Homo sapiens: one gene and its partners. The protein of the gene in region 3 purifies or fractionates together with the protein of the main gene of each other region. This does not show direct contact. Each region holds a gene or a part of one and is shown on either strand. Other genes may lie near its edges.

What was found.
Region 1: the proteins of B3GNT3 (region 3) and SLC30A7 purify together in Homo sapiens (affinity purification with mass spectrometry; 2 studies listed by BioGRID and IntAct, with this or other methods). This does not show direct contact.
Region 2: the proteins of B3GNT3 (region 3) and GALNT12 purify together in Homo sapiens (affinity purification with mass spectrometry; 2 studies listed by BioGRID and IntAct, with this or other methods). This does not show direct contact.
Region 4: the proteins of B3GNT3 (region 3) and SLC30A6 purify together in Homo sapiens (affinity purification with mass spectrometry; 3 studies listed by BioGRID and IntAct, with this or other methods). This does not show direct contact.

The regions. Positions count from the first base shown.
Region 1 is NC_000001.11:100,913,078-100,920,415, reverse strand, and holds part of SLC30A7 (zinc transporter 7), read right to left. Parts: intron 6,754-7,338; coding exon 6,610-6,753; intron 2,340-6,609; coding exon 2,289-2,339; intron 1-2,288. UniProt on the Homo sapiens protein: Zinc ion transporter mediating zinc entry from the cytosol into the lumen of organelles along the secretory pathway.
Region 2 is NC_000009.12:98,803,098-98,810,858, forward strand, and holds the start of GALNT12 (polypeptide N-acetylgalactosaminyltransferase 12), read left to right. Parts: upstream 1-4,572; 5' UTR 4,573-4,601; coding exon 4,602-4,972; exon of another isoform or gene 4,973-5,109; intron 5,110-5,967; exon of another isoform or gene 5,968-6,862; coding exon of another isoform or gene 6,863-6,928; intron 6,929-7,728; exon of another isoform or gene 7,729-7,740; coding exon of another isoform or gene 7,741-7,761. UniProt on the Homo sapiens protein: Catalyzes the initial reaction in O-linked oligosaccharide biosynthesis, the transfer of an N-acetyl-D-galactosamine residue to a serine or threonine residue on the protein receptor.
Region 3 is NC_000019.10:17,804,988-17,812,325, reverse strand, and holds part of B3GNT3 (N-acetyllactosaminide beta-1,3-N-acetylglucosaminyltransferase 3), read right to left. Parts: intron 4,569-7,338; 5' UTR 4,519-4,568; coding exon 3,952-4,518; intron 756-3,951; coding exon 204-755; 3' UTR 1-203. UniProt on the Homo sapiens protein: Beta-1,3-N-acetylglucosaminyltransferase involved in the synthesis of poly-N-acetyllactosamine. Has activity for type 2 oligosaccharides.
Region 4 is NC_000002.12:32,160,676-32,168,946, reverse strand, and holds the start of SLC30A6 (zinc transporter 6), read right to left. Parts: upstream 3,084-8,271; 5' UTR 3,047-3,083; coding exon 3,044-3,046; exon of another isoform or gene 2,758-3,043; intron 1-2,757. UniProt on the Homo sapiens protein: Has probably no intrinsic transporter activity but together with SLC30A5 forms a functional zinc ion:proton antiporter heterodimer, mediating zinc entry into the lumen of organelles along the secretory pathway.

The DNA of each region.
Region 1 (7,338 bases), on a different chromosome or scaffold from region 3:
ATAGAATAAATATTCGGTTCCTATCACGTATTTCAAATAGCAGTGAATTAAATAGGTTAATAATGTTGGGGCCACTTTAACTTTTAAAACTACAACTGGAAAAAAAATACACATCAAAGCAGATTGAAGGTCCCTAACTACAAACTCTTATATATGATACATGCTTTTAAGCCTTTATATTCTTTAATCAGTGTTTTGGTAGAATAAAAAATGAAAATAACTCTAAACATGAAAAGAAAAAGAAAATAATGATTTGTAAGAAAATAATGATTTGTTCTTGATTTTCCTTAGACTGGAAAGTCCCTGGCTACCATTTATTTGCTAACCTGAAAACTGGTTTTATTAGTAAGTGTCATTAAAACTACCTAAAGCCTTCTTACTACATAAACTGTTTAAGAAAAAAATCACTAAGAAAGAAACATAAACTAGGATGTTTAACTTATACAAAGTTAAAAGCCTTAGAAGATGTGGTAGGATACTGATAACCTAACCCCCCAAAACCTTAGTAAGCCAGGAGTCAAGATGTAGCATATAATTGAAAAACATAATTAATTCAAGTTTTTCATGTATGAGTATCTATCTACCTGGTCATTTTACAAGAAGTTTTTAATGCCAGGTAGTTTTCTCTGTTCTTCAGCTATTTACTGGGCTCTTCAGCCACCATAAATTGATAAATATTCAGAAAATATAAATTTATTTTCACAATAACTTATATAAAAGAGAATTAGAAAGGCAAATCTAACTTCCTTTCCTCCAACTTGTGATGACTTTCAAAATTAAATTCTTATTATCAAGGCTAATTTATAGTACTTGATATAGATGCATCATATATGCATGATTATATGTTATTTCAGCAAATGTTATTCTAAAACAATTCCATATCTTTTGTAAATGGAAAACCTGTGATTGGAAGACACATTTAAGCCTTCTGAAAATAAATTTCTCAGTATGAAGGAATATATTCACAGTGAAAAAATAAAAAACGAGAGTTATATAAAGAAATAGTGAAGACAAATAGGTGCAGTTGAGATTGGATCAGAAGCCATTCAGAAAGTCAGACTGAAGTCAAAAGTTAATAAAGGCAAGTAGATAGCTGGGAATTAGGAAACCCTGACAATAAAGTCTAAATGGAAACTCAGAGCCAGAGATTGATTAATAACCTACCGCCCCACCCACAAAAACAAAACAAAACAAAAAAAAATTACTATAATTCATAGACAGGATTTTCTCTGGCATGTAAAACTTTGTAATATACAATTTTACACATGTATTAGCTATTGATGGCCTACAAATATTATGGAGTTCTCACTTTGCATTAAATCTTTAGCTCTAAATTTTCCCACAACATAAAAACATATTAAATATTATTCTTGGAAAAACTACATAATAATCCTGTAAAAGCAAACATACTCCTACAGACAGTCCTCGACTTAAAATGATCAACTTATGACTTTGGCTTCATGATGGTGTGAAAGCAGTATGCATTCAGTAGAAACTATACTTCAAATTTTGAATTTTGATCTTTTCCTGGGCTGGCAATAATGTGCTATGATCATCTCTCATGATGCTGGGCAGCAACAGCAGGCGGCAGCTCCCAGTCAGCCAAGCAATCACAAGGGTAAACAACTGATACTGTACTCTACAGTGGACTGTATTAAATAAATTACATGAGATATTCAACACTTTATTATAAAATAGGCTTTGTGTTAGATGATTTTGCCCAACTGTAGGCTAATGCAAGTGTTCTGAGCACATTTAAGGTAGGCAAGGCAAAACTATGATGTTCGGTAGGTTAGGTGTATTAAATGCATTTTCAACCTACAGTATCTTCAATTTACCACGGGTTTATTAGGACACAACCCCACAGTAAATCAAGAAGCATCTATACAATGTTTATAGTCACAGGCATGGGTATTACTTATATTCAAGCAGAATAGTTTCCGAATCTTTTTGAGATACGAGTCTCATATGTTCCCCAGGGTGGTCTCAAACTCTTGGGCGCAAGCAAGCAATTCTCCTGAGTAGCTGGGATTGTGGGGACATGCCAAGTGCACCCAGCTCTATATTTTGCTTTTATTATCAAATCAGAGAAAACAGTCAAGTGACAATTAAAAGAATGTCTGCTAATATATCTAATAGTATATAAAAAACAATCACTAGAAAGGCTAACACTAAACACAAACACTATGTTTTATATTTTTCTTAAAGGAAAACTTCAGACAACTAAAACTTCAAAACTATAAAAGCAGTTTCAAAAAACTAAGAAACATAAAAATTGCTTGTCATACCTTGTAAAATCTGTCTGCTGGGTCCTGTTGTTTCTTTTAAGGACGGGCCATCTGTAGAGAATTAAGTTATTTTAAAACATGTTTTCAATTCCTCATTCAAGTTTTTACAATTCAGAGTCCTTTTCATTCAAATGCATCATCAAGAATGCATGGCTATATAGCCATATCAAACTTACAAATTTATTTTTTAAATTTAATAAAATAATTGAGTGGAGGTAAATTTAGTGGCAGTAGTTTTAAAATTCATCAAAAGTATGGAGTATTTCAGAAATTATTGTATTAAAAAGATTAAAAGCACAGGAAATTAAAGACATTGTGAAAATCTTCCAGTATTCATAAAATATCTTTTAATACTCTTACAATTGGAAAATTCAGAGAAACCCAAATGTACTGCTTGAAGTTATGAGGTCCAAGAAATGAAGCCAGGATAGAAAGATAACTTGACTATGGTAAACAGTAGTTTTCAACAGCTTCTAGATTAATGTGGCAAACTCTTGATACAGAAGAGATAAAAATAATTTTTTTCATTTTGCTTTTATGATGACAAAATGCTATAATTTCTATCTCTAAACATCTTGAAAATTACTATTCAGCTTTAACATTAAAACAGAAAATATAGGAAAACAAGGCAAAAGATGAGCAATATTTGTTTAAACAGATCATCAGGAAGACTGACAAGCTTTCTGATCACAACTAACAATGTACCTACTATCATCATTTGTTCATGGCCCACAGCACCAAAAAGGTCAAGGTACCCTTATCAGTACAGCTTTGATAGAGCATTATAACAATGTTCTGCAATAATGTAACAAAGAAATATAAAAGCATAACACCATATAATATTTCCTATCTAGATATTGTACTGCTGTATGGGAATGAAGAAGTAGCTACCCTGAAAAATCCAGCTGATAGCCAAAAGTGTAAGAGATATGCAGTTTTTCAACATTATTTTGGGATGCATGTGAGCAAAAAAGTTGGAAAAGCAAGGTTTTAAAGCATACCAGTGTAACTGTTATAAAAATACAGGATATTTTAGAGACTGACACAGGCAACAGGCAAAAATAGACAAGAAGGATTACATCAAATTAAAAAGCTTCTGCAAGGCAAAGGAACCAAATAACAAAATGAAAAGGCAACTTACAGAATGACAGAAAATATTTGCAAACTATGTATCTGATAAAATATATACAGAACTCACAATCAACAGCAAAGGTAAATAAATAACCTGATTTTAAAATGGTCAAAGAGTTACAGAACGACAAACATTGCATGTTCTCACTTATTTGTGGAGTACAAAAATTCAAAACAATTAAACTCATGGAAGCAGAGAGTAGAAGGATGGTTACCAGAGGCTGGGAAGGGTAGTGTGGTGCTGCAGGAGTGAGGATGGTTAATGGGTACAAAAAAAAAAAAAAAAAAAAAAGAATGAATGAATAAGATTTACTATTTGATAGCACAACAGGGTGACTACAGTCAATATTAATTGTACCTTTCAAAATAACTAAAAGAGTGTAACTGGATTGTTTGTAATACAAAGGATAAATGCCTGAGGAGAAGGATACCTCATCTCCATGATGTGATTATTTCACACTGCATGCCTGTATCAAAACATCTCATGTACCCCATAACAATATACACCTACTGGTTGGGCACAGTGGCTCACACCTGTAATCTCAGCAGTTCGGGAGGCCAAGGCAGGTGGATCACGATGTCAGGAGATTGAGACCATCCTGGCTAACACGGTGAAACCTCGTCTCTACTAAAAATACAAAAAGTTAGCTGGGTGTGGTGGCACACGCCTGTAATCCAGCTACTCGGGAGGCTGAGGCAGGAGATTCACTTGAACCCGGGAGGCAGAGGTTGCAGTGAGCCGATATCGCACCACTGAACTCCAGCCTGGGTGACAGAGCGAGACTCCATCTCAAAAATAAATAAATAAATAAATAATAAGAATATACAGCTACTATGTACCCACAAAAATTAAAAATAAAAAAATTTATTAAAAAAATAAAAAAGTAATAAATGGCCGAAGGAATAAAATAGACATTTCTCCAAAGAAGACATACAAATAGCCAACAGGTACATTAAAAGATGCTCAACATCACTAATCATCAGGGAAATGCAAATCAGAATCACAATAAGATATCATATCATACCTGTTAGGATGTCTATTACCAAAAAAGCAAAAGACAGTAAGTGTTGGGAAAGCTGTAGAGAAAAGGAAACCCTTGTATACTACTGGTGGCAATGTAAACTGGTGCAGACACTATGGAAAACAGTATGGAGGGTCCTCAAAAAAACAATAATGGAACTACCGTATGATCAGCAAACTGGGTATATATCCATGAGAATTGAAATCAAGAGCTCAAAGAGATATCTGCACTTCCGTATTCACTACAGCATTATTCACAATAGCCAAGACATGGAAGCAAGCTAAATGTCCATCAACAGATGAATGGATAAAGCAATGTGGTATATACATACAACGGAATATCATTCAGCCTTAAAGAAAGAAAGAAATCCTTCTAATTTTGACACATGAATGATCCTGAAGGACATTATGCTAAGTGAAATAAGCCAGACACAGAAGGACAAATACTACATTTATATCACTTATATAAGGAATCTAAAATAGTCAAACTCATAGCAACAGAGAATAGAATAGTGGTTGCCAGTGGTTGGAGGAAGTTGGAAAAGGGGAAATATTAGTCAAAGGGTACAAAGTTTCAGTTGTGCAAAATAAATAGGTCCTAGGGATTTGTATGGCATAGTGCCCATAGCTAATACTGTATTGTATACTTAAAAATCTGCCAAGAGTGTAGATCTTATGTTAAGTGCTCTTACTGCAAAAGTAGAAAGAAAGAAAGAAAGGAAGAAAGAAAGAAAGAAAGAAAGAAAGAAAGAAAGAAAGAAAGAAAGAAAGAAAGAAAGAAAAGAAAGAAAAGAAAAGAAAAAAGAAAAGAAGTGAGGAAGGGAGGGAGGGAAAGAAAGAAGAAAAGAAAAGAAAAAAGAAAAGAAAGAATTGAGAGTAGGAGGAAACTTTCAGTGGGAACGGATATGTTTATTGGAGAAATCATAGTGATGGTTTCATGGGTGCATACTTACCTCAAACTCATCAAGTTGTATACATTAAATATTTATCTGTTTTCATATGTCAATCATATCTCAATAGAGTAGTTAGAAATTTTTTTTTTTTTAGACAGAGTCTAGCTCTATTGTCCAGGCTGGAGTGCAGTAGCGTGATCTCAGCTAACTGCAACCTCCGCCTCCTGGGTTCAAGCTATTTTCTTGCCTCATGGAAAAATTTCAAAGACTGAAAAATGAAGGGCTTAGAAGGCTCACTCTTCAAGGTCCCTTTCATATTTTCAATTCTAAAGCTTTAGGATTCTGTCTATGTTGCAAATACAAGATAATACTTAAGCATACACTCTACTGAGAGTAATCAAATTGTGTCACCCAAGCAGCTTCTATTAAGCTATACTTTATAAACTATGTAAAATATAATTCAAAATAAAATATTAAGTTGATAAACACCTCATAACTTAGTACCCAATGCTACATAAGTTAGCATCCAAAGATTTCTAAAAAAAACATAGAGGTAAACATCAGGTGACAGACATCAAAAATTATAATACAAATGTGAAAAATTGAAAACCTCCACCATATTTTTATAAGCCAATATAGCACAAAAGGCCTCGTGATGCTTAAAAAATTATGATTTTCATTTCCTAAAATGCAATTGTTCCTCATTCACTAGTACTCATTTAAAATAGTGGCATTTGAGGGGAGGGAAAGGGGGACGGTTAATGAGTACAAAAAAATAGTTGAATGAATAAGACCTAGTATTTGCTAGCACAACAGAGTGACTATTGTCAATTTGTAATTTCATTGTACATTTTAAAATAACCAAGAGTATAATTGGATTGTTTATAACACAGGATAAATGCTTGAGGGAATGGAAACCCCATTTACCCTTACGTGATTACTATGTATTACATGCCTATACCAAAATGTCTCATGTAACCCATAAATATATACACCTACTATGTACCCACAAAAATTAAAAATTAAAAATAAATACATAAAAAAGTGGCATTTTATTATGATATACCCTCTGGAAAAAAGCGAACATCCACTGCCTTATACTGAGTTAATTTCATGCTATACAAAAAATAAACTAGCCCTGGGAACCATTTAGACTGATTCATTAGAAAAGAAGTTGATTTGGTATCTTTTTAATAAACTATTTCAACTAGGAAAAGTAATCCACAAAACTCTTGTTTATTTGGAGGCTGTCCATTTGTCTCTAGGCTGTACTCACCATGAGAATGAAAGTGTCCATGTCCATGAGCATGATCATGGCTATGTGCAGCACCATGTTTCACTTCATGGCTATGGCAATGATCGACATGGCCATGTGCCTGATCTAGAGCACCATTAAAGAGGGAATGACTGTGTCCGTGGCCTAGAAAACAAAGTGTTAGGACAGAAGGTATGTAAAAATATATTATATAAATGGTTACAATTATACTGACACTAGCGCAAAGAATCAGCTCTAAACTCAGATCAATTCAATAAACATTTACTTGTAAAAAGTGTTACACATTTGTTAAAACAATCCTGAGTTTCTGCTATGGAGTACCAGAAGGTAATGAAAGCATAGAGGAAAGTGATAGACCTTACTGGAAATGAAAATAAGTACTGACTGGAAGTATACAGATATCTCCAAAGAGGTCAGATAATGATATTCATTCATTTGAGAAATATTTATTGGTAACATTTTCTATTATAGGAATCATTCTAGGCACGGGAGATGAGGCAGTAAACAACAAAGACAAAATTCATGCCCAAAATTTTTCAAAGTACTATTACACACACTAACAAAGATTAACAAGACATATGCAAATGCTCACATTAAGGCAGACACAAGAAAGCTGCTGCATTTGGTAACAGAATCAGTAAAATTACATTAAAGCAGGTAGAAAAAGCTAAATGCAAAAGAATGCAGAATCCTTTCTCCACAGCATACCTAAAAATGACTAAACCACCG
Region 2 (7,761 bases), on a different chromosome or scaffold from region 3:
TCCCCTAAAAGTTTCTCCCAAAGGGTAATCTGAGCAATGCACCTCATTTCCAACACAATTCCTTTCAACCAACTTTTTTAAATTAAAATTTTTTCTTAATTTTGAATTTTTTAGGCATGGTATCTTGCTTTATTGCCCAGGCTGGAGTGTAGAGGCTATTCACAGACACCATCGTGGTGCACTGCAGCTTCAAATTCCTGGGCTCCAGTGATCTTTCTGCCTCAGCCTCCTGAGTAGCTGGGACTATAGGTGTGTGCCACGGTACCAGGCTCAGCCAGCATTTACTAAATACCTTCTGTGTGCTAGGCATTATGTGTGTTGAATGATAGAAACATGGCCTCATGGCTCCCAGGAAATCCCACATGACTGCAGAACAGTGGGGTCTATGAGTTTTCATCGTCAATTCAAAGGAAGATGTCACAGTTTGGAGGATGCCACTGACAGCTTCATGGCAGAGCTTGGCTACAAGTTGGGCAGAAATGATGGGTGGGGTCTAGGTCGTTGTAGGAAAAAGGAGGAAACATATTGGAAGGAGAGAGCAGGGGGACAGGAGGACCACAGACTGACAGAGTGGATTAGGCAGGAGATAAGGAAGGCTTAGAAGTAAAATAATCTCGAAAGAGTACAATATTTACTTTAAATGTCTTTTTTTTCCTAATAAGGTAACGATTGTTTTAAAGAATTCTGATGTTGTAGAAATATAGAATGTAAACTCCTTGAGATCAATGGCTTTGGATATTGTTTACCTCAAATCCCCAGAATCTAGCACACTGACTCCCAGATGGTAGGTGATCAATAAATATTTGTTGAAAAAAAAACAAATAAATGGAACAAAAGTGAAAGGACCACAGAATCTCACCCATCAGAAGTAAATATAATATAGTTAATGGTTTGGTAAATATTCCTTTAGATTTTTTCCCCTTTCATATGTTAATATATATTATTTTACAAAAATAGGATCATACTATTCATATAGCTCCACGACTTGCTTCTCTTTTCTTTACAATGCATCTTGAACACATGTGTATGTTAAATGCCTACAACTAACTCATGCTTGCAAATAGCACTGTGGTATATTATGGTATTGTACGGATGTGCAATATTTTATTTTATAATCTCTTGATGGAAATTTGGATTGTTTCCAACTTTTTGCTTTTATATACAATACTGCCATAAGCTTCCTTGTATGCATATCTTTTGAGCACTTACGAGTCTATGTTTGTTGGATAGATTCCTAGATGTGGAATTGCAAAATCAAAAAGATGTTAATATTAACATTTCTAATAAATGTTGCCTAATTGCTTTCCAAAAGGTTATACTAGTTTGCATTCCTACCAACAGTGGATGAGAGTGTTTTTTCACATCCTTGCCAACACTGGAATTAATAGCCATTTTCATTTTTGCCAGTCTGATAGGTGAAAAAATATTTCAGGGTAGGTTTATTTTGTATGTATTTTAGAGAGATCGAGCATATTTTCATACTTTTATAAACTATTTATATCCTTTTGGGTGGGAACTGTCTATTTAAATCCTTTGACCATTTTTATTTCTGTTTGTTCTCTTTATTTCCCTATTGATTCACATACTGGGTAAATGTCATCTGCAAATATCTCTTTCTGACTTGCCTTTTGTTTCTGGACTTTGTATTATACTGGAAGCCTTACAGAATTCAAAATTTTTATATAGTCACATTTAGAAATATTTTCCATATGGTCTCTGGTTTTTCTCATTCAATACTTTTATAATTAAATTCCTTCCCTTCCCTTCCTTCCTTCCTTCCTTTTTTTGCTTATTTACTGTGGCATCTTCAGATCATTTGGAATTTATTTTGATGTAAAGTGTGATGTTGGGACTTGATTTGAATTTTTTCCAAATGGTTATCAAGTTGTCCCAATTATTACTTGAATTAGGCACATGTTCCCCACTAATATTTGAAATACCACATCTACCATAGATCATATTAAACTCTAAAAGGAATGTAATAACTCCTATGAAGAGAGCTAATATGACAAATTAAAAGCATCTTCTAGAGATATCTACTTGTTGGTGAGCAGCCGATGACATAACATGGTACTGTTAGTGAACAGATAAGCCCCCTAAAAATAGCAATAAACCCAAGGGCTTTACCTCTGTTGAAAAGATGCTAGATTTCCAACAAGCTCCCAGGTGGTACCAATGCTTCTGGTCTAAATATCATACTTCACTCAGCAAGGTGCTGGACATCTTCCCTTTGCCTTACTGACACTCTCTCCACTCTGTTTTGTGCCCCGGGAGGCTGACTGTGCAGACTGTATCACTCAATCTTCTCAACAACCCTGTTCAGGTGGTGCTATCATTAGATCACCATTTAATAGATGAGCAAATTGAGCCGAGATAAGTAAAGCAACTTGCCTGAGGTCACACTGCAATTCGTGATGGGGCTGGGTTGAGCTCAGGCAAGTGGGCTCCAAGGTTGTGTTCCGACCTCCTAAGCTAAGCTGCCTTTGCATCTCATTGCAGCCTGCCCAACAGTGAGTGGTGTGGTGGGAAATCCTGGACTGTGAGTCAGGAGACCCAGATACAAATCCTCCCTCTACCGCTTGCATGTTGTGTAACCTTGGGCAAGTTGCTTCACTTCTTGAGCCTACATATTCTCATCTGTCAACCTTGCAAGGTTGTCATAGGGTGAAATGAGAAAGTACATGAAAAAGAAAGTCCAGCAGTTTACAGCACACAGTGTGTGCTCAGTAAACAATAGCTTTTATCTGTTACCTGGGGCTTAAGTCCATGTCTTGTAAGGCCTAATTGCATTTCTCTTTTCTCTGTATCTGAACCTCTATTGAGAAGCATTCCAATTTGGCAAGCGGATCCAAGACATTATGAATTGTAATCCTTGTCTGTTTTCTAATCTGACCGCAGATCTTAAATGTGTTGGGTGTCTGAACAGAGGCCAAAGGGCTCAGGTCCAGACCTACCTAACACAACCGCCTTCTGGCATTAACCAGCAGCCTCCATTCTGCGTGGGAAGCAGGCGGGGCCCTGAGCACTGTGGGAAGAGCCACTTCCCTCTAGTCTAATATTAGCAGCAGGTTGTCCTGAGTGGGAGCTGCTTTGCATGGTTCATCCCAAAACCCACCCCCCTCCTGCAACCTGAGGGAGATTTCCTCTGGGGATACCAGTAGCCAAAGGCTGTATGAAGACAACAGCAAGTCAGATTCTACCTCTACCTGAGCCGCCAAGTTCAAGGTCCTCTCCCCACCCTGTGTCTCAGACCCCGCATTTATCAATGAGATAATTGGACCAGATTTGTGCTTTTTAAACTTTCTGGGCTTCTGGTCTCCTTGAGAATATTTGATAAAAAGCTTTGGACCAACTTCCCATGGTAAAACAAACAACAACAAATAGAGCTTACACTCTATCCTTCTACAGGGGATACAGAATGATTCTTTTCCCTGAGCTAGACACCAGCAGAGGGAGTTCCAGATTAATTTAAGATATGATTTGAAATCTCTGCTATCACTTTTACATTCAGATATCTGTGTAGACATTACTTCATCAGAGAAGCTTTCCAAAACCCCCAAACTAGATCAAGTTCTACTATTCTAAGCCCTTTTAGCGCCCTGTAATTCTTCTTCAAAATACTTAACACAATTCTAATTATCTTTTTAATATTTGTCTACTCCATTAGACTTACTTCGTCCCTGGCAGCTCAAGGCTCCCACAGCAGTGATCTCATGAACAGGGCGGCAGCTTCATGGCCTTTTTTGGTTGTTGTTTAATAGAAACAGGATCTCGCTTTGTCATCCAGGCTGCAGCGCAGTGGCGCATAGTTCACGGTAACCTCCAATTCCTGGGCTCACACAATCCTCCTGCTTCAGCATCCTGAGTAGCTGGCACTATAGGCACGTGCCACCATGCATGGCTAATTCTGAAATTTTTCTGTAGAGATGGGAGTCTTGCTATGTTGACCAGTCTCGTTTTAAGCTCCTGGCTTCAAGTGATCCTCCTATCTCGGCCTGGGATTACAGGTGTGAACTATCATGTACAGCCTTCATGGCCTTTTGCTCCTAGCCTCAGAGGTCACAGAGCTATCACGAGGCGAGCCAGGCGAGGGTTTGCTATTCAAGGACTCCAAAGAGTATGGCAGAGGCTGGGCCTGCAGAAGTCAGTGGGGCAGCGTGGTGTCTGTTGATCTCATCGCACCTCCATCTCCTCATCTGTAAAAGGGAGCTCGTAATCCTAGTTGATGGTTGTTTTATTGGACTGTGTAAAGATCAGATGAGATAATGGCAGTAGAATTCATAACACCCTGCAGGGTGTATTCAGCCAACACTTAGCGCCTACAATATGCCAGGCGCTAAGGGTTTTACCACCACTATCTCTTTAATAATGCACCATAGCCCAAGAAGGAAGATGCAAGTCTCAGCCAGCCCACTTGAAGACCCTGCCGAAATGAGCCACCCCGGGGGCTGCGCTTGGGCTGGCGCGGGGCTGGACGGAAAGGGGGCGGCGCGCAGGTGGGGCGGGCCGGGGGCGGGGCGGCACGGCGGTTCCGGGATCCGGGTCCTGGCCTCCACCGCCGCCTTGGGGCGCGCAGATCGCTGGCTGCAGTTGGCGGGCGCATGTGGGGGCGCACGGCGCGGCGGCGCTGCCCGCGGGAACTGCGGCGCGGCCGGGAGGCGCTGTTGGTGCTCCTGGCGCTACTGGCGTTGGCCGGGCTGGGCTCGGTGCTGCGGGCGCAGCGTGGGGCCGGGGCCGGGGCTGCCGAGCCGGGACCCCCGCGCACCCCGCGCCCCGGGCGGCGCGAGCCGGTCATGCCGCGGCCGCCGGTGCCGGCGAACGCGCTGGGCGCGCGGGGCGAGGCGGTGCGGCTGCAGCTGCAGGGCGAGGAGCTGCGGCTGCAGGAGGAGAGCGTGCGGCTGCACCAGATTAACATCTACCTCAGCGACCGCATCTCACTGCACCGCCGCCTGCCCGAGCGCTGGAACCCGCTGTGAGTGCACAGCTCTGGGGAGGAAGCCCGCCCTCAGAGCCCCGGGCCTCAGTTTCTCCATCAGAGCAGTGGCAGGGCGGGGAGCTGGGGTCTCCAGGATGGCGCGTCTTATTGAGTCTTTCTCCGAAGACGATAGTGTAAGAGCTCACATGGGGGCGGGGAGGCAAGAAAGTAAAAAAGACGAAAGTAGAAAAAAAATTACCAGAAATTGGCAAGTCTGTTAGTGATCTCTTAGCTCCCTTCTCCTTGAGAAGTTATCATCTCCCTGAAAAGGTGAGGGTCAGGGCTAAGCAGAAGGGTTTAAGGCGAGGACCCCCCAGCACCCAAAGGACAACCCCGCTCTGCCCGCCTCGCAGTGCCTCCGCGAAACTGACAACTCCTCCGGGCGGTGACCGGCTCCATTCATTCTCTGTGTGTGCCAGGGCCTAAGGGACAAACAAGATGCGAGGGAGCGCCCCACAGGTGAAGCGAAAGATGGCTGTAAGGCCCCCTCAGCGCTAGAAAGCCTCCTTGTGCTCTCCCTGGGCATTGGATTTCTGAGCTTTGGGTGGAGGAAGGCGGGAAGGGGCACGGGGTGGGAAGGGCTCCTTCTGGCCGTGATCCACCCCAGCTCACTCCTGTGGGTGGTGCTGGACTGGAGCCAGCGTGGTCAGAGGCCTAGTTCCTGTTGGAGCTACTGGCTGGGCAGGTTGCGCCCCTGCCTAGGTGGGGATCCAGGGCACACGCTGGCAGCAGGAGGAAGGACAGGTGGCTGCTGCCACCTTTGCCGCTGGGCCTCCCGGGCTCTCACTTTTTCTTCGAAGTGTCAGGGATCTTCCAAGTCCTTTTTTGAGCCCCTTCCTTACAGACTTTGAGGAAAAGAGGACTCAGAGAGGGGGTTCCCATTGGAGCTGGTGGTGGCAGCCTGCCGTGTGCACCAGGCACCTGCCACTCCTCTCCCCTTCAAGCCATTCCTGCTTTACAGGTGTGGAAATAGGTTCGGAAAGGATAGGTGACCCACCCAAGGCCCCTCAGCTGGAATGTGGTAGGACTGGTCTGGAGGGACTATGGCCCTTCTGGCCCACTTGGCACCATGCTGATCTCAGGATTTTAGGGGCCTGCTCCATGGTACCTTGGCCAGAGAGACCATGAATGATGGAATGAGGATGCCCCACCTCTGCCCCACTGTTTCCACTGTCTTCCCTGTTTTGGGGATCTCCTCATGCCTAGCCTCATGCTTCTGCCTGAGGCATTTTTCACTGTTAGTCTTTTTGAATAAAACTTTGTTGGGATTGATAGTAGTTCCTCCACTCACCAGCCTAACGCATGTTTAGCTCCTCGAAACCCCGAGGGTGCCCGCTGAGGCAAGGTGGAGGGGAAGCTTTCAGGTTATACCCAGCTTCAGATTAAATCCAGCCCAGGGGAGATAAAATCCTGGTTCTTTTGCTCGTCACTTCTGTGATCTCTGGCAAGCTGCTTAGCCTCTCAGAGCCTTGGTTTCCCTTCGTTTGCGAAATAGGAAACTCATAAAAGTGAGTCTCCATGCATTCTACATAAAAGTGAGTGGAAAGAACACAACTTAGGAATTAATAAAGCATCAATACCTGGGAGCACACTGTGTGCTTAAATCTTAGTTTTTTCACCTTTCCCTGTTGCCAAGAATGTACTCAAGAGGTTGCTTTTGAGAGTCATCCAGGGATTGGTTGTAGTTTTTCTTTCCTGGATCCAACTTCCTTTATTGTCGCAGGTTGTGAATATCTCTTTGAAACACTGTGGACAATCTGTGGGGCTTATGGTAACCTGTCTCCATGGTGACGCAGCTGCCCTGTGTCCTCTCAGGATTTGCTTGTAGATCCTGCTGTTGCATTGACCCTGGAAGTTAAGCCAAACCCAGCATGATAAGGAGTGTGAATGCCTCCTGCTTCTAATTCCTGCAGCAAGGCCTGTTGGGTTATTCTTACCCAGCCAGAGAGAAAGGTGAGCCTGAGCTGTGTGGGTCTCTGTTGGGCCAGGCTTTGAGATGTAACTTCAGAGTGGTCAGTAGGGTCAGGGTATTTTGTGGCATCTCACTTTTATTACAGTTCATCCAGGAGCTAATCAGGGTCTTGAGATTTTGCCTGAGAAACCTGAATGGCAGATCATAAGTTCACAGTGTGGGTATGGGGTTCTCTGCGAGTCTAATAAACAGAGGGATAATGAGGGTCCTTGAATGTTGCAGGAGGGAGGGCCCTGAGGGAGGAGCATCTAGTCTAACCAGAGAGGAAAAGCCACACCCCCAGGTCACATAGCACATCTCAGGCAGAGCCACAGTCCATATCTGTTACTCGTTCCTCCCTTTTTGGGTGGGGATGATTATTTCTATGTTTATTTTAATTATGAAAGCAATGCATATTCACTCTAGAAATGTTGGCATGCACAGAGAAACAGAAAAGGAAAAAAATGAAAATCCCCAATAAACCTACCACTCAGGGAGAACCATTGTTAACATTTTGCTGTGCCTCCTAGACTTTTAATGAAAGTCTTTACTCTGCAGTGCCTTTTATCAGAGGAAAGGAGTTGGGAATGACTAAGGGACCACTTGGTTTGACTCTTCCTGGTGTCAGCAGGGTGTGGCACTGTGTCTGCCTTCTTGAAGAAGGCCAGACCACTAAAAAGACATTTTAGAGTACTGGTCCTAATTCTGTGAGAGCCAGTATAGACCTGGGCCCCTCTATGAATCTAATAATTTACATGCCAGTGGATTCGAGTATAGTTTTGTTAGTTACAGCACTGAATTGAAGAGGAGGCTAATGATGACTAGGAATCCTTCC
Region 3 (7,338 bases):
TCCAGGGAAGATGCTGGAACAGTACCAGGTGGGTTTTGAAGGATGTGTAGGAGTTCGCCAGCCAGAATATTCACTCATCAAACCTCAAACCTTCCCTGGCACTCCCTTATGCTCAGACCACAAAGGTCTCAGCTTCCTGGGAGGAAGGTGTCGCCCCTTCCTATGGAAACAGGAGCCCAGAGGCTGGGGACCCTGATGCTGACTCAGTAGATCTGTGTCTGATTGCCGCAGGTGAGGTTGGGCTGGTTCAGCGCATCCCACATGAGCAGCATCTCATAAGGTAGGAAGCGGTGCACCAGCAGCAGGTCTCGGTAGAAGCAGGGGTCAAAGGAGGACAGGCGTTGCGATGGAGCCCGCACGCCAGACGTGCGGATGCCGCTGTGGGAGGCAGGCTTCAGTCCCTCAAGCTCCAGACACATACCCAGGAAGACATCATCAATGGGGAAGATGTCCAAGACATGGGCAGCACGGCGCAGGGCAGCGGCCGTGAAGCGGGACAGCAAGAAGCCACCACCCCCACAATAGGGTGGGTACCGCTCATTCTGAGTCACCACCTCTGGCACATAGTACTTGCTCCAAAAAGCCCGGATGGGGCCCACGTTTTGGATCAGTTGCCCCACGAAGAGGTGGCGGCCAGGGTCATGGTCCTGCAGGTAGAAGACCATGTTGTCTGTGTGTGCAAAGACGTCATCATCCCCGTTGAGCACGAAGCTGGCGTTGGCGCACCTTGTCTCCTGCCACTGTAAGAACAGGACCTGCAGGCAGGGTGGACAGGGCATGCTTGCTTGAGGGCTGGAGAAATTGGCCTTGGGTCTCTATTAGCCACTCCAGCCCACTAAGCCCAGGAAAGGAAGTGTCCACAATCCAGCCTGGGTTAAGGCCCTGCCCTGTGGGGTTACTTGGGAAACCCTCTCTGTGCCTTGGTTTCAACTCTCCAAACAGGCCTTATCATGTGCCTCTAGGAGTGTTGGGGAATCCATGGAGACCATGCTCCATGAAGCACCAAGAAATGCTGGAAAATTGTTACATTTACATGTATTGCTATTCCTTCCAACTCTGCCTGGCCAAGCCCTGTTGTTAAATAATCATTTGTATGAATTTTGTTTGTTTCTGAGACAGGGTCTTGCTCTATTGCCCAGGCTAGAGTGTAGCGCTATGATCATAGTTCATTGCAGCCTCAAATTCCCGGGCTCAGGTGATCCTTCCACCTCAGCCTCCCAAGTAGCTGGTACTACAGACACATGCCGCTACTTACTCCTGGCTAATAATTTTTTTTTTTTTAAGAGATGGGATCTTGCTATGCTACGCAGGCTGGTCTCAGACTCCAGACCTCAAAGGATCCTCCCACCTCAGCCTCCCAAAATGCTGACATTACAAGCAATGAGCCACCACTCCTGGCCTTTGTGTGATTTTTATTTTATTATTATTATTATTATTTTTTTGGAGATGGAGTTTTCGCTTTTGTTGCCCAGGCTGGAGTGGAGTGGTGCAATCTCGGCTCACTGCAACCTCCGCCTTTCAGGTTCAAGCAATTCTTCTGCCTCAGCCTCCCAAGTAGCTGGGATTACAGGCATGCACCACCACACCTGGCTAATTTTTTGTATTTAGTAGAGACAGGGTTTCACCATGTTGGTCAGGCTGGTCTTGAACTCCTGACCTCAGGTGATCCACCTGCCTCAGCCTCCCAAAGTGCTGGGATTACAGGTGTGAGCCACCGTGCCTGACCTGTGTGATTGTTAACATCCCCCTCTCCCACCAAACACTGGACTTCCCTCCTTGGGCCTGTGTCTCTCTTTTCTGTTCATGCCATCTCCCTCAGCACCCAGCATAGTGCCAGTGCTTCACGGGTGCTGGGTTCATATTTGTCAAGCTGATGTTTATCACACACTTTTAAAGGGTTTTTTGTTTTTGTTTTTGAGACAGAGTCTCACTCTGTCACCCAGGCTGGAGTGCAGTGGCACAATCTTAACTCACTCCAACCTCCGCCTCCAGGGTTCAAGCGATCCTGCTGCCTTAGCCTCCCAAGAAGCTGGTCTCGAACTCCTGGTCTCAAGTGATCCGCCCACCTCAGCCTCCCAAAGTGCTGGGATTATAGGCATGAGCCACTGTGCCTAGCCACTTTTGTGTTTTCAGAACACAGCATGTTAAGAGGCCATGGCCCCTACCCGCCTCAGCCTCAGTTTCCCCTACAGTAACCTACACAGGCTGGGTATCTGTTTGTTGCCGGGCGCTGTGCTTGGTGCTTACCCTACCTTGAATCCTGAATGCACCCTTAGGAGGCAGAAGTGGTCCTCTATCTTATTTACAGATGAGGGAACAGAGGCTCTCCAGAGAAAACTGCAGTGAGGTCACCCGCAGAGAAACAGCTACCAGAGGACTTGAACCCAGGCCTGTCTGTACCTCCTATGAGCAGGAACCTGCAGAGTTCCCTGTTCCTCCTTGAAAATGTTGTCTCTACTTGTCTTGCTCTACTCGAGGACCTAGGAGGGGTTCTTAGAGCCCCTCCATTTCCTCATCTGCAGATGGGCAGGATTTTCTCACCTCTCATGGCTTCTTTTTTTAAAAAAATAGAGACGAGGCTGTGCGTGGTGGCTCATACCTGTAATCCCAGCACTTTGGGAGGCCAAGGCAGGAGGATCACTTGAGGTCAGGAGTTTGAGACCAGCCTGGCCAACATGGTGAAACCCCATCTCTGCTAAAAGTACAAAAAAATTAGCTGGGCATAGTGGCATGCACCTGTATTCCCAGCTACTCAGGAGGCTGAGGCAGGAGAATCACTTGAACCTGGGAGGTGGAGGTTGCAGTGAGCCGAGATTGCACCACTGCACTCCAGCCTGGGGGACAGAGCCAGACTCCATCCAAAAAAAAAAAATTAATTAAAAAAACATAAAAATTAATTAATTAAATTTTTTTTGAAAAAGATGAGGTCTCGCTATGTGGCTCAGGCTGGCCTCAAACTCTTGGGCTCAAGCGATCCTCCCTCCTCAGCTTCCCAAAGTGCTGGGATTACAGGCATGAGCCACCAAGCCTAGCTACCTCTCATGGGTTCTTGTCCATCAAAAAGGTCTTGACTGAGCACATGCTGTGCACCTGAATCTATTCTAGGCATTAGGGACACAGCAGTGAGTGAAACAGACAAGGCCCCCAGCCTCATGGGGAGACAGAACCGGAACAAATAAACAAGGAGATGTTGGCCGGGCGCAGTGGCTCACGCCTGTAATCCCAGCACTTTGGGAGGCCGAGGCGGGAAGATCACCTGAGGTCAGGAGTTCGAGATTACCCTGGCCAACAGGGTGAAACCCCGTCTCTACTCAAAATACAAAAATTAGCTGGGCATGGTGAGTGCCTGTAATCCCAGCTACTTGGGAGGCTGAGGCAGTAGGATCGCCGGAAACCAGGAGGTGGTTGCAGCAAGCCCAGATCGCACCACTGCACTCCAGGCTGGGCAACAGAGCAAGACTCCATTAAAAAAAAATAAATAAACATAAAAATAAACAAGGAGATGTGTCCCCCGTCATTGCCAAGTTGAGTTGGACATCCAGCACTGGTCTGGGTGCCTTATAAACTCCATCTCCTGTAAACCTCACAGTAGCCCTTAGAGGTGGGTGGGACTCATTCACATCCCATTTTCCAGGTGAGAAAAGTGAGGCACAGAGAGGTGAATGAACTCCTCCAAGGTCGAACACCAAGTAAGAGGCAGAGCTTGGATTCGAATCCGCATCATCAGGCTTGAGCTCTGTGCTAGTAACCTAGCTCCTCTGCCCTTCCCCCTAGCCTCTCCTAGAAGAAGACCATTTTGGGTCTCCACGAGGCTGGTGAGGACAGCAGAGGGGCAGAATGGGCTGTGATGGACTGACGAGGACTTCTGGTCCCCTGGGTCCCTCAGGAGTGGGTGGTAATTTGGACAAGAAGGACAGGTGGCCCCGATCAGGTGACCCCAGTCCAGCGCACCTGCTTGAGCGTGAGGTTGAAGAAGGAGTCGTGGAAGTCCCACTGCAGGATGTCTCCGTGAGTCTGTGCCTCCAGCTCCAGCAGCCGGTTGACCTTGCGGGCCTCGTGCGGGTTGGAGGCTGTGCCCACCAGGAAGAGGAGGCGCAGCTGCAAACCCCGTACCTTGCGCTCGCGGCCCCACGTGCGCCGCAGCAGCTCGCGGCGCACATAGTTGCTAGGGGAGGACTTGATCACCAGCAGCAGGAAGACCGGCTGCGCGCACTTAGAGGGGGGCACGTCCTGCAGCAGGGGAAAGTGGCGGCAGTGTCTGTACAGGAGGAAGTTCTGAACGTGCTGCGGCTGCGTGGCGAAGTCCGGGTGGGTGACCATAGAGGTGTTGGCATGGCACGGGGCCGGGGCTGGGCGGGTGGGTGGAGTGGGCCAGGCCAGGGCCTCGGGGATCGCCGGTGGCTGCTCCTGGACCTTGCAGGTGGGTGGTGACACTAGCAGACTGAAGAGGAGGAGGGTGAAAGCGCCGATGGCCAGAATGAGGGTGGCATTGGGCCGCCGGTGCCGGAGATACTTCATCCTGGCCAGCCAGGGTCTGGGGTCGGCCTGAGGAGCCTCCTGGGCGGCTCCTGTGGAAAACAAAACTCACTGAACACTCGCCATGAGCAAAGCGCTTTTCCTGTGGCCCCCAACATCTGGTTGCACCTGTACAGTTGCTCAGGTTGGCAAAATATTGAAATTCACCCCCCACTTAACTCCTCCACCCCTTGCAAGACCCATTTCAAAGCACTCCAACCCCTGTTGGCTCTGACAGGTGCCCTGGCCCTCCCTGCTGGGGATTAATTTTTTAAATTTTTTAATTTTGTTTTTTTTTTTTGAGACAGCGTCTCTCTCTCTCTCTCTCTCTTGTTCTGTTGCCCAGGCTGGAGTGCAGTGGTGTAATTTCCGCTTACTGCAGCCTCCACCTCATGGGTTCAAGCGATCCTCCTGCCTCAGCCTCCTGAGTAGCTGGGATTACAGGTGTGAGCCACCATGCCTGGCTAATTTTTTTGTATTTTTAGTAGAGACGGGGTTTTACCATGTTGGCCAGGCTGGTCTTGAACTCCTGACCTCAAGTGATCCACCTGCCTCGGCCTCCCAAAGGGCTGGGATGACAGGCATGAGTCACTGTGCCCTGCCTTTCTGTGTGAAGTCTTAGTTTCCTTATTAGGACATGGGGGTGCTGAGGTTCCTGCTCCAATACACACACACACACACACACACACACACACACACTGGGGCCACTGCTCCCTGACTGCAAAAGGGCTTGATGCATATTAGCTGTGTGGTGACCGCCTCAGTGACCATGAGTCCACCATCCTGGCTACCTTGATTCCCCAGCTATTCCCACTTACAGCATGGAGCAGTATCAGAACCCAGGACTTTTTTTTTTTTTTTTTTTTCTTGAGATGGAGTTGCCCAGGCTGGAATACAGTGGCACAATCTCGGCTCACTTCAACCTCCGCCTCCTGCATACGAGCGATCCTCCTGCCTCATCTTTCAGAGTAGCTGGGACTACAGGCACGCGCCACCACGCCCAGTTAATTTTTGTATTTTTAGGAGAGACAAGGTTTCACCGTGTTGGCCAGGATGGTCTCGATCTCCTGACCTCATGATCTGCCCACCTTAGCCTTCCAAAGTGCTGGGATTACAGGCATGAGCCACCGTCCCCAGCCGGAACCCAGAACTTTGATGGGTGCAGTATGCCCATCTCATACGTCCCTCAACTCGGGGTCACTGGGAGACTCCCTTCCAACACCTCAGGGCCTCCCAGAATCTGTCACAAGGGACTGCGTCATGGATGGCACCAAACATCCCTCAAAGAGAACCTGGCCAACTCTCGGCCACCTGGGGCACAGACAGGTGAATATCCGTGAACGTGCATGAGTCCAATCCTGTTAACTGTCACAGTGCTCATCAGCCCTAGAGTGTTAACTGAGCACCTACTGTATGCTAGATGCTGGGGATACAGCTGTGACCAAGCCAGCCCTGCCCTCAATATAACAATAAGTAGAACAGCTTGGGCAGCATGGTGAAACCCCGTCTCTACAAAAAACACAAAAATTAGGCTGGGCGCAGTGGCTCACACCCATAATCCCAACACTTTAGGAAGCCAAGGCAGGTGGATTACTTGAGGTCAGGAGTTCAACAGCAGCCTGGCCAACATGGGGAAACCCACTCTCTACAAAAAAAAAAAAAAGAAAATACAAAAATTAGCCAGGCATGGTGATGGGTGCCTGTAGTCCCAACTACTCGGGAGGCTGAGGCAGGAAAATCACTTGAACCCAGGAGGTGGAGGCTGCAGTGAGCTATGATCACACCATTGCACTCCAGCCTGGATGACAGAGAAAGACTCTGTCTCAAAACAAAACAAAACAAAAAATTAGCAGGCTGTGGTAGCATGTGCTTGAGGTCTCAGTTACTTGGGAGGCTGAGGTGGGAGGACCACCTGAGCCCAGGAGTTCAAGGCTGCAGTGAGCTATGATCACACCACTGCACTCCAGCCTGGGCAACAGAGCAAGATGCTGTCTCAAAAAAAAAAATTGTAAATGATACTAACAATTAGTGACAGCCATACTAATTGTTACTGAGGCAGGTCCACAGGGGACCTGAGCAACCTAGGATCAGGGAGGTCCTGAAGGATGATGGGAATTCACTTGAGCAGACTGTGGGGAAGGGCATTCCAGACAGAGTGGAGCATGTGCAAAGGCCCTGAGATGGATACAAATTTAGGGTGCTGGTGGCAGAGCGAGGAGGCTGACGTGGTTGGGACAGGGCGAGAGAAAGGAGGTGATGGTGGAGTTATGGGACCCTGCTAGGGTACAAGAATAGAATGGGCACGCCAGAAAGAATGTCTTATGTTTCCTGTGAGAAGCAATGAGGAGCCATGGAGGGTCTATGAGCAGGGGAGGGATCAGATTGATTTATGCCTTTAAGAAGTCCCCTGTGGGCTGGGCAAGGTGGCTCAGGCCTATAATCCCAGCACTCTGGGAGGCTGAGGTAGGAGGATCGCTTGAGCTTAGGAGTTTGAGACCAGCCTGGGCAACATGGTGAAACCCCATCTCTACCCAAAATACAAAAGTTAGCCGGCGTGATGATGCATACTTGTAGTCCTAGCTATGCGGGAGGTTGAGGTGGGAGGATTGCCTGACCCCAGGAGTTTGAGGCTGCAGTGAGCTATAATCACACCACTCCAGCCTGGGCAACAGAGAGAGACTGTCATTAAAAAAAAAAAAAAAAATCCCTGTGGTCACTAAGGGATTAGGGACATTTCAGTCAGGGCAGGGCAACTAAGGGAGACCCTGTCTCTGCTAAATAAAAAAATGAAACAAAATTAGCTGAGTGTGGTGGTGTACACCT
Region 4 (8,271 bases), on a different chromosome or scaffold from region 3:
TCCTGACAATGAAAATAAAACAAAAATCCTAATGTCATATCACTCTTCCCAAAATTATATTGGCTCGCCATTGCTATCAGAATAAACTACAAATTTTACAACCTGAATTTCCAGGTTTTCAATGACTTAGCCTGTTTCTTTCCAGTCTTATCTCTTACTCCAGATAGAAACCCTCAACTTCAGTTAAACTGGTCTACTCTTTTGTCTCATGACCACTCTTGCGTGAAAAGGCCAGATCTGTCTAACCCAAGCTCTTATTCATATAATGACAAACAAGTATTAGATTAAGAGTATTAGAGTGGGGCACAAAGTACTTAGTTTCATGTTTCACTTCTTAAATGAAGTCTTCCTAGATCATTCCAAACTATAGTGTTTTTTATGCCACTTATTTTGCATTAACCAAAGTAAAGCCTTCAACTTGTTACATTGCTTTGTAATTTTAGTAACTTCACTAATGACAAGGGCTATTTTCCTTTATATTTTGTTTTTATATACTTATATTTTTAATATTATATATTTATATTATTTATATTTTCTAAGAAGGCACTGTTTTCACACAGCATGTTAATAAACACAAAACCTTTTTCTCAATATTTTATTTTAAAATATTTATTTTAAAAAATAAACCTTAAATACTGTTTCCCTGCATGACTAATACTGATGTTTCAAGCATAAAGATATAGTGCCATAGGTTTTCAGTGCTTTATAAAACAGACGTTTTATTTGTATTTTTCTTTATATTTTCTAAGAAAGTACTGTTTTCACATAGCATGTTCTTAATAAACGCAAAACCTTTTCTCAATATCCTTTAAAATAAACCTTAAATACTGTTTCCCTGCATGACTAATACTAATGTTTCAAGCATAAAGATATAGTGCCATAAGTTTTCAGTGTCTTATAAAACAGATGTTTATTGAAAACTTCCTCTGGGCCAGGCACGCTACAAAGCTCTGGGAATTAGGGTGAAATACATAGGTCCTGCTCTCAATGAGCTTACAGTCTAGAAAGTGAGAAAGACAAATAAGTACACAACTTTAACATCGTCTGTAAGGATTACAGATGTTACTGGTAAAAAACACAAGAGATTCAAGTTTTACTTTCTTAAATTAGGGCTGTGAGTTAATGAAGGTGTATAATCTGAAAGACCTCTGAATTTTAAGTCTCTTATCCCTTTATCTTCAACTCCCTTCAAATCATCAGTATTATAGGCAAGTTAAGTTTCTATTGTATGTATTCGTTTTGTGCAGCTTTATGTAACAAAACTGGTGTGTGTGTGTGTGTGTTTGTGCATATAAAAGCACAAGGTACCACCAGAGCACAAAGGAGAAGCAACTAAGAGGATACTGGAACATGAGGGAAAGGTTCATGAAAAATAATTAAGGATATATAAGGGTTATTCTGATAAGGACAGCCGATAGAGAACAGAGAACAATTCTGGGGATGGAAGAGCATATGCAAATTAGGTACAAAGGCTCAATTAATACAGCATGATTTGCAAGCTATTCACTGTGGCTGAAATACGGATGTTGCATACATGTATGCATTAAAAAAAAAAAAAAAAAAAGAGTTTGTGGCCTGGCACGGTGGCTCACGCCTGTAATCCCAGCACTTTGGGAGGCAGAGGCGGGAGGATCACCTGAGGTCAGGAGTTCGCGATCAGCCTGACCAACATGGAGAAACCCCGTCTCTACTAAAAATACAAAATTAGCCAGGCGTGGTGGCGCATTCCTGTAATCCCAGCTGCTCGGGAAGGTGAGGCAGGAGAATCGCTTGAACCCGGGAGGCGGAAGTTGTGGTGAGCCGCGATCGCGCCATTGCACTCCAGCCTGGGCAACAAGAGTGGAACTCCGTCTCGAAAACAACAACAAAAAAAGAGGCTGTAAAAGTAAGAAGCTTGATAATGAGTGGCTTTGTATGCCATGCTAAACAGGACTTTATCTTGAGTGCTACAGAAAAAAAAAAAAGGAGAAAATTTGAGTAAGGGAGTGATGTGGTCAAATTTTAGAAATATAACTCTGGCTACAGGCTTCACAATGGTGAATGTTTTGAAGAAGAGCGTAACTGAAGGCTATTTGATCATTAGCCAAAAAGTGTAAACTTTTACCCATTTTCTGTGTGCAAAAGGATTACAGAAAATTTACAAAACATAAAGTGTGTGAATGAGGCATTTTCCCGACCATATCCACTTAAGTAAAAAACTTAGTACAGTGACAAAAGCTTAGGCACAGAAATGTGGTCTCTTTCTCATACGTAGGCTATCAATAAGTACTCCATAAATTTTTCTAATAAATGCATTTTCAAAAGGCACACGCCACTTGGACACTTCAAATCCCAACCAACTGCTTATCTTTAAAGTTCAGAGCTATATATTTGAGCTCTAAAGGCAAAGAATGACTAATTCTAACAAATTTGAGAGAAAACACCATATCCCAACAACCATAACGTCTACTGGGTCTTCCATTAGTTTCTACAAACCCAGAAATAAAGCAGCAATAAAATGTCCTACCAACACCTTGACTTTCTGTAGTTACTGCGCTTATGAAATTTGCTGCCGTAATCAGGCTACTTAATATTTAGTAAAGCCAAGTTGCAGAGTGAGACGTCTGCCCTAAAACCCTATTACTAACCTTTTTTTTTTTTTTCCGCTGGCGTTATCGCCACTGCTCTAAGAATCACTATTACAGTTGTTGCTGTGGACTTGTTTTCAGATCTTTTGTTGGTGGCCTAGTTGTTGACGCTGGCAAAAACTTTTATTACCTTAAAGAAATCTCGGCAGAGGGAAGTCAGAAACTCGCCAGGAGCTGAAAGCTCTGCCTGCAGCGGGGCCTAGATCGTGAGCGCCTGCGGAACAGGTGAGGGACCGAAAGGGACCAGAACTCTGAAGGGGAACATTTTGGGAGACAGCCGCTCCTGCCAAGGGGCCCGACTTCAACTCCAATGACCCCTCCTCTGGGTGGCTGAGGGATTTCAAGGTCGCTTCGGGACCAAATAAGATAAACCGAATCAGCTACAGCCGAAACCCTCACCCCAACAGCCAACTCACCATGATAAGGAGCTGCACAGCTCCCGCCGGAAGCCGTTCTGGGTGCTCGAGTTTTCCCAGAACGGAAGGGGTGGGGCACCAGTGGGCGATTGGCTGTGAGGAAAGCGTGGGAGGAAGTGCGTGCTCTGGCCTCCGGCTTCCGTCCCCTTCCCGGCTGTCCCTGCACTCCGTGGCGGAAGGCGGCTAGAGCGGCTCCCTCTGAGCTCTCCGAGAGATTGGTCGGGACCTGAAGCGTTGAGGTTAAGGGCAAGGCAAGGAGCAACGAGGAGTTTTTCGTTACGTTAGAAAAATTTCGTTGCGTGCTGAAGCGCTTTTACCTGTGTTGTATGATTTAACCTTATGAAAATGGACAGTATTCCAGTTTTACAAGTGAGGAAAGAAGATTAAGAAACTTGCCTCCGCCAGGCGTGGTGGTTCACTCCTGTAATCCCAGCACTTTCGGCGGCGAGGCAGGCGGATCACTTGAGGTCAGGAGTTCGAGACCAGCCTGGCCAACATGGTGAAACCCCGGCTCTACTAAAAATGCAAAAATTAGCCGGGCGTAGTGGCACGCGCCTGTAATCCCAGCTACTCTGGAGGCTGAGGCAGGAGAATCGCTTGAACCTAGGAGGCGGAGGTTGCAGTGAGCCGAGATCGCGCCACTACACTCCAGCCTGGGCGACAGCGCGAGACTCCGTCTCAAAAAAAAGAAACTTGCCTTGAGTCCTACATATAGTTTGCTGTAGTAGCAGAATTTGAACTCGGACCGACTAATGGTCTACTTAATAAAATGCTATTTGGATTCTCTATAAAATTAATAATATAGAAGTAATGTTAATTATAGAAAACTTGGAAAATATTAAATTCATTCGATAAAGATTGAATATGTAGCACGTGTGTTTGTCAGATACTGGTCTCGTGAAAATTATATTCTGGTAGGGAAGACAGAAAACAAGTAGGGATAAAGAAATTTTTAAAAGATATTCATAAGTAGTGTCGTGTAGAAAACTGGGTATAGGTTGAGTATCCTTCATCCCAAATGCTTAAGACCAGAACTGTTTCAGATTGTGGCTCTTTATCTTGGGGATGGGGCCAGAGGCTAAACTTGAAATTCATTTATGTTTCGTATACACCTTATGCACATAGCCTCAGGGTAATTTTATGCAATTTTAAAAATTGTGTGTGTATCAAACAAAATTTTGACTACAGCTTTTTACATGCGGTCAGGTGTGGAATTTTCCACTGTGGCATCGTGTTGATGATCAAAAAGTTTTGATTTTGGAGCATTTTAATTTCAGATGGTTGGATTAGGGTTGCTGAACATGTAATGGTATACAGAACAACTGAGTAGGTGTGGTGCTCACGTCTGTAATCCCAGCACTTTGGGAGGCCTAGGCGGGCGAATCACGAGGTCAGGAGTTTGAGACCAGCCTGGCCAACATGGTGAAACCCTGTCTGTACTAAAGATAAAAAAAATTAGCTGGGCGTAGTGGCGGGTGCCTGTAATCCCAGCTGCTAAGAAGGCTGAGGCAGGAGAATTGCTTGAACCCGGGAGGCAGAGGTTGCAGTGAGGCGAGATCGTGCCCCTGCTCTCCAGCCTGGGCAACAGTGCAACACTTCATCTCAAAAAAATAAATAAGAAGTAAAAAATAAATAAAATCGTAGGTATTATCATCTATCGACAATCTGTTCTCCACACTGCAGCCACAGTAATCTTTTTTAGTAGAGGAGAGGTCTTGCTATGTTGCGCAGGCTGGTCTGGAACTCCTGGGCTCAAGTGATCCTCCTGCCTCAGCCTCCCAAGATGCTAGCATTACAGGCATGAGCCAACACCCCTGTCCTATACCTAGGATTTAATGAACATTCAATATGTGGTAGGCAGTATTCTAAGAATTTGAGGCCAGGCACAGTGCCTCATGCCTGTAATCCCAGCACTTTGGGAGGCTGAGGCAGGCAGATCACTTGAGGTCAAGAGTTTGAGATCAGCCTGGCCAACATGGCAAAACCCCGTCTCTACTAAAAATATAAAACTTAGCCGGGTGTGGTGGCAGGCACCTGTAATCTCAGCTACTCGGGAGGCTGAGGCAGGAGAATTGCTTGAACCCAGGAGGCGGAGGTTGCACTGAGCTGAGATGAAGCCTGGGTGAGAGAGATTCCATCTCAAAAAAAAAAAAAAAAAGCCGGGTGCAGTGGCTCATGCCTGTAATCCCAGCACTTTGGGAGGCCAAAGCGGGTGGATCACGAGGTCAGGTTTTTGAGACTAGCCTGGCCAACATAGTGAAACCCCGTCTCTATTGAAAATAGCCAGGTGTGGTGGCAGGAGCCTGTAATCCCAGCTACTCAGGAGGCTGAGGCAGGAGAATCACTTGAACCTGGGAGGCAGAGGTTGCAGTGGGCCGAGATCGTGCCATTGCACTCCAGCCCAGGCGACAGTGCAAGACTCTGTCTCAAAAAAAAAAAAAAAAAAAAAAAGCACGATTATGTGTTAGCTCATTTAATCCTCATAACAGCCTTTGACATAGGTACTACTATTATCCCCTGCTTGGGAAAATCACACACCTAATCAGTGGCAGATTATAGACACGTGCCACCACGCCCGGCTAATTTTTGTATTTTTAGTAGAGTCAGGGTTTCACCATGTTGTGCAGGCTGGTCTCAAATGCCTGACCTCAGGTGATCTACCTGCCTTGGCCTCCCAAAGTGCTGGGATTACAGGCATGAGCCACTGCACCCGGCCTGGAGAGGTACCTTTAAACCATATAAATATCACATTCCTCATTATGCTTGTAATTTGTTTATGTTTGTATTCATATATTCACATGAGCTCATGGTTTATTTCTTCTGATGGGTTATAATTAATTACTACTATTACTTATTTTGATGCTCAAATTTGTCCAGTGGGAACCCTTTTAATCTGTGTGTCATTTCAATGATTCATCCTCATCAATCTTTGGGCACTTTTTCTCTCTGGCACAAGAAGTTCCACACTCATGTATTTTCTCTGCCCCAGCCCTGAATTTAGCCATTTTATCAAAGAGTCTTGGTTCCTTTAGTTGATGTTATGGACTGAATATTCGTGTCCCTCAAATTCATATGTTGAAGCCTTCACCAGCAATGTGATGGTCTTTGGTGATTCAGCCTTTGGGAAGTACCTAGGGTTAGATGAGATAATGAGGATGGGACTGTCATGATGGGATTAATGCCCTTTTAAAAAGGGACACCAGAGAGCTTGTGCTGTCTGCCATACAAGGACACGGTGAGAAGGTGGCCATCTGCAAGCCAGGAAGAAAGCCCTCACTAGAAACCAAACTGGCTGGTACTTTAATCTTGGACTTCCAAGCTTCTAGAACTGTGAGGATAAATTTCTGTTATTTAAGCTGCCCAGTCTATGGTATTTTGTAATGCAGCCCAAGCAGACTAAGACAGTGAAGAATTTGGAAGGCAAGATATGGGTACTTTATGTGCTCATTATTATTGGAGCATAACTGCTCCAAGGCCACCTTGGTGGACAGACTAGGGAATATACATATTTGGACACATACACACGTGTATATTTATATGCTTATATGTCCTCTATTTTTATTTGAGGCAGGATCTCGCTCTGTTGCCCAGGCTGGAGTGCAGTGGTGCGATCTCAGCCCACTGCAACCTCTGCCTCCCAGGTTCAAGTGATTCTCGTGCCTCAGCCTCCCAAGTAGCTGGGACTACAGGTGTGTACCACCACACCTGGCTAATTTTTGTATTTTTACTAGAGATGGGGTTTCGCAGTGTTGGCCAGGCTGGTCTCAAACTCCTGATCTCAAGCGATCTGCCCGCCTCGGCCTCCCAAAGTGCTGGGATTATATGCGTGAGCCACTGTGCCCAGCCGATATTTCATCTATTTTTATAGATTTTAAACCATGAATTCACTTTCTTAAACCCAATTCAAGCTGAACTCCAGGTTTCATTCTAGTTTCCCCCCTTTCTGTATTTATAATTACCTTCTCTGTGGTTAGTATATTCACTTTATTCCATCAAGTCTTTGGTGTGCAACCAATCTACCATCTCTGCTGACACCCTTACCCCATATGGACACCCCTTTCTGTGCTTGAGCTTATTCCTCATTCCAGGTTGCCCCTATCCACCATGTGAATAACTGCCTCAATCTGTCCCTGACACCTCATACCTAGCTGTCCATCATTGTAGACACTGTCTTCACCCTATTAGGTCTCTGACACCCAAATTTGGACTTCCATAGGTCCCCTCTACCCAATGTAAGCACATTGATCTGAACCACTGTGCAAACACGTGCCTGGGACTGCTATCCCCAGAAAGTCCTGCTGGCAAGGTTGGCCCTTGCCAGGCATCTGGGAACTTGAATTTGAGGGGAGATTCCCTCTATTCCCTAACAAGCTTACTATGTCTAACAGTGAGGCTTAACACTTTCACATGCTGTCACTTGTTGCTGGAGTGACATCCTGTGTGACTTCATTAGGAGAGAACCCTTAGAAGCTGGTGCTTGGTTTCCTCTGGACTTCACTTAATTCCTTTTTTCCCTTTGCTGAATTTGCTTCATATCCTTTTGCTCTAATAAATCATTGTTGGGAATAAGACTATATGCTGAGTCCTGTGAGTGCTCCTAACGAATCATCAAACTTGCACATAGTCTCGAGGGCTTAACCACCTAATGACTTTAAAACAATAGTTCTGGCAGGGTGTGGTGGCTCTGCCTGCCTGTAATCCCAGCATTTTGGGAGGCCGAGGCAGGAGGATCACTTGAGCCCAGGAGTTTGAGACTGCAGGGATTTTGAGACTGATTACGCCACTGCTGTCCAGCCTGGGGCAATAGAGACTCTGTCTCTAAAAAAAAACCTCAACCCCCTGAAAAAAAAAAAATCCACAACAGTTCAGGAAGGAGGAAGGTAAGCAATTTAGTGACATTATTAATTTCAGCTCTTCCATCCCACTGTTTTATCTTACACTTCTTTGCTCTGTTTTTCTTTCCTTGATTTCATTTGACTAATCACATAATTCTTAGTGACCCATTTTATCTTCTCTAATGGCTTTTTAGATCTACTGCACCCCAGTGATGGGGTGAGAGATTACAAAATGCATTCTTATCACAATCTACCTTACACTAATGCTATCTCACTTTGTGTACAATATAGTAATATTATCTCAATATAATTACATTTATTGCCCTCTCTGACCCTTCATGCTATTTCTGTCCTATATTTTACTTATACATATATTATAAACACTGCAATACT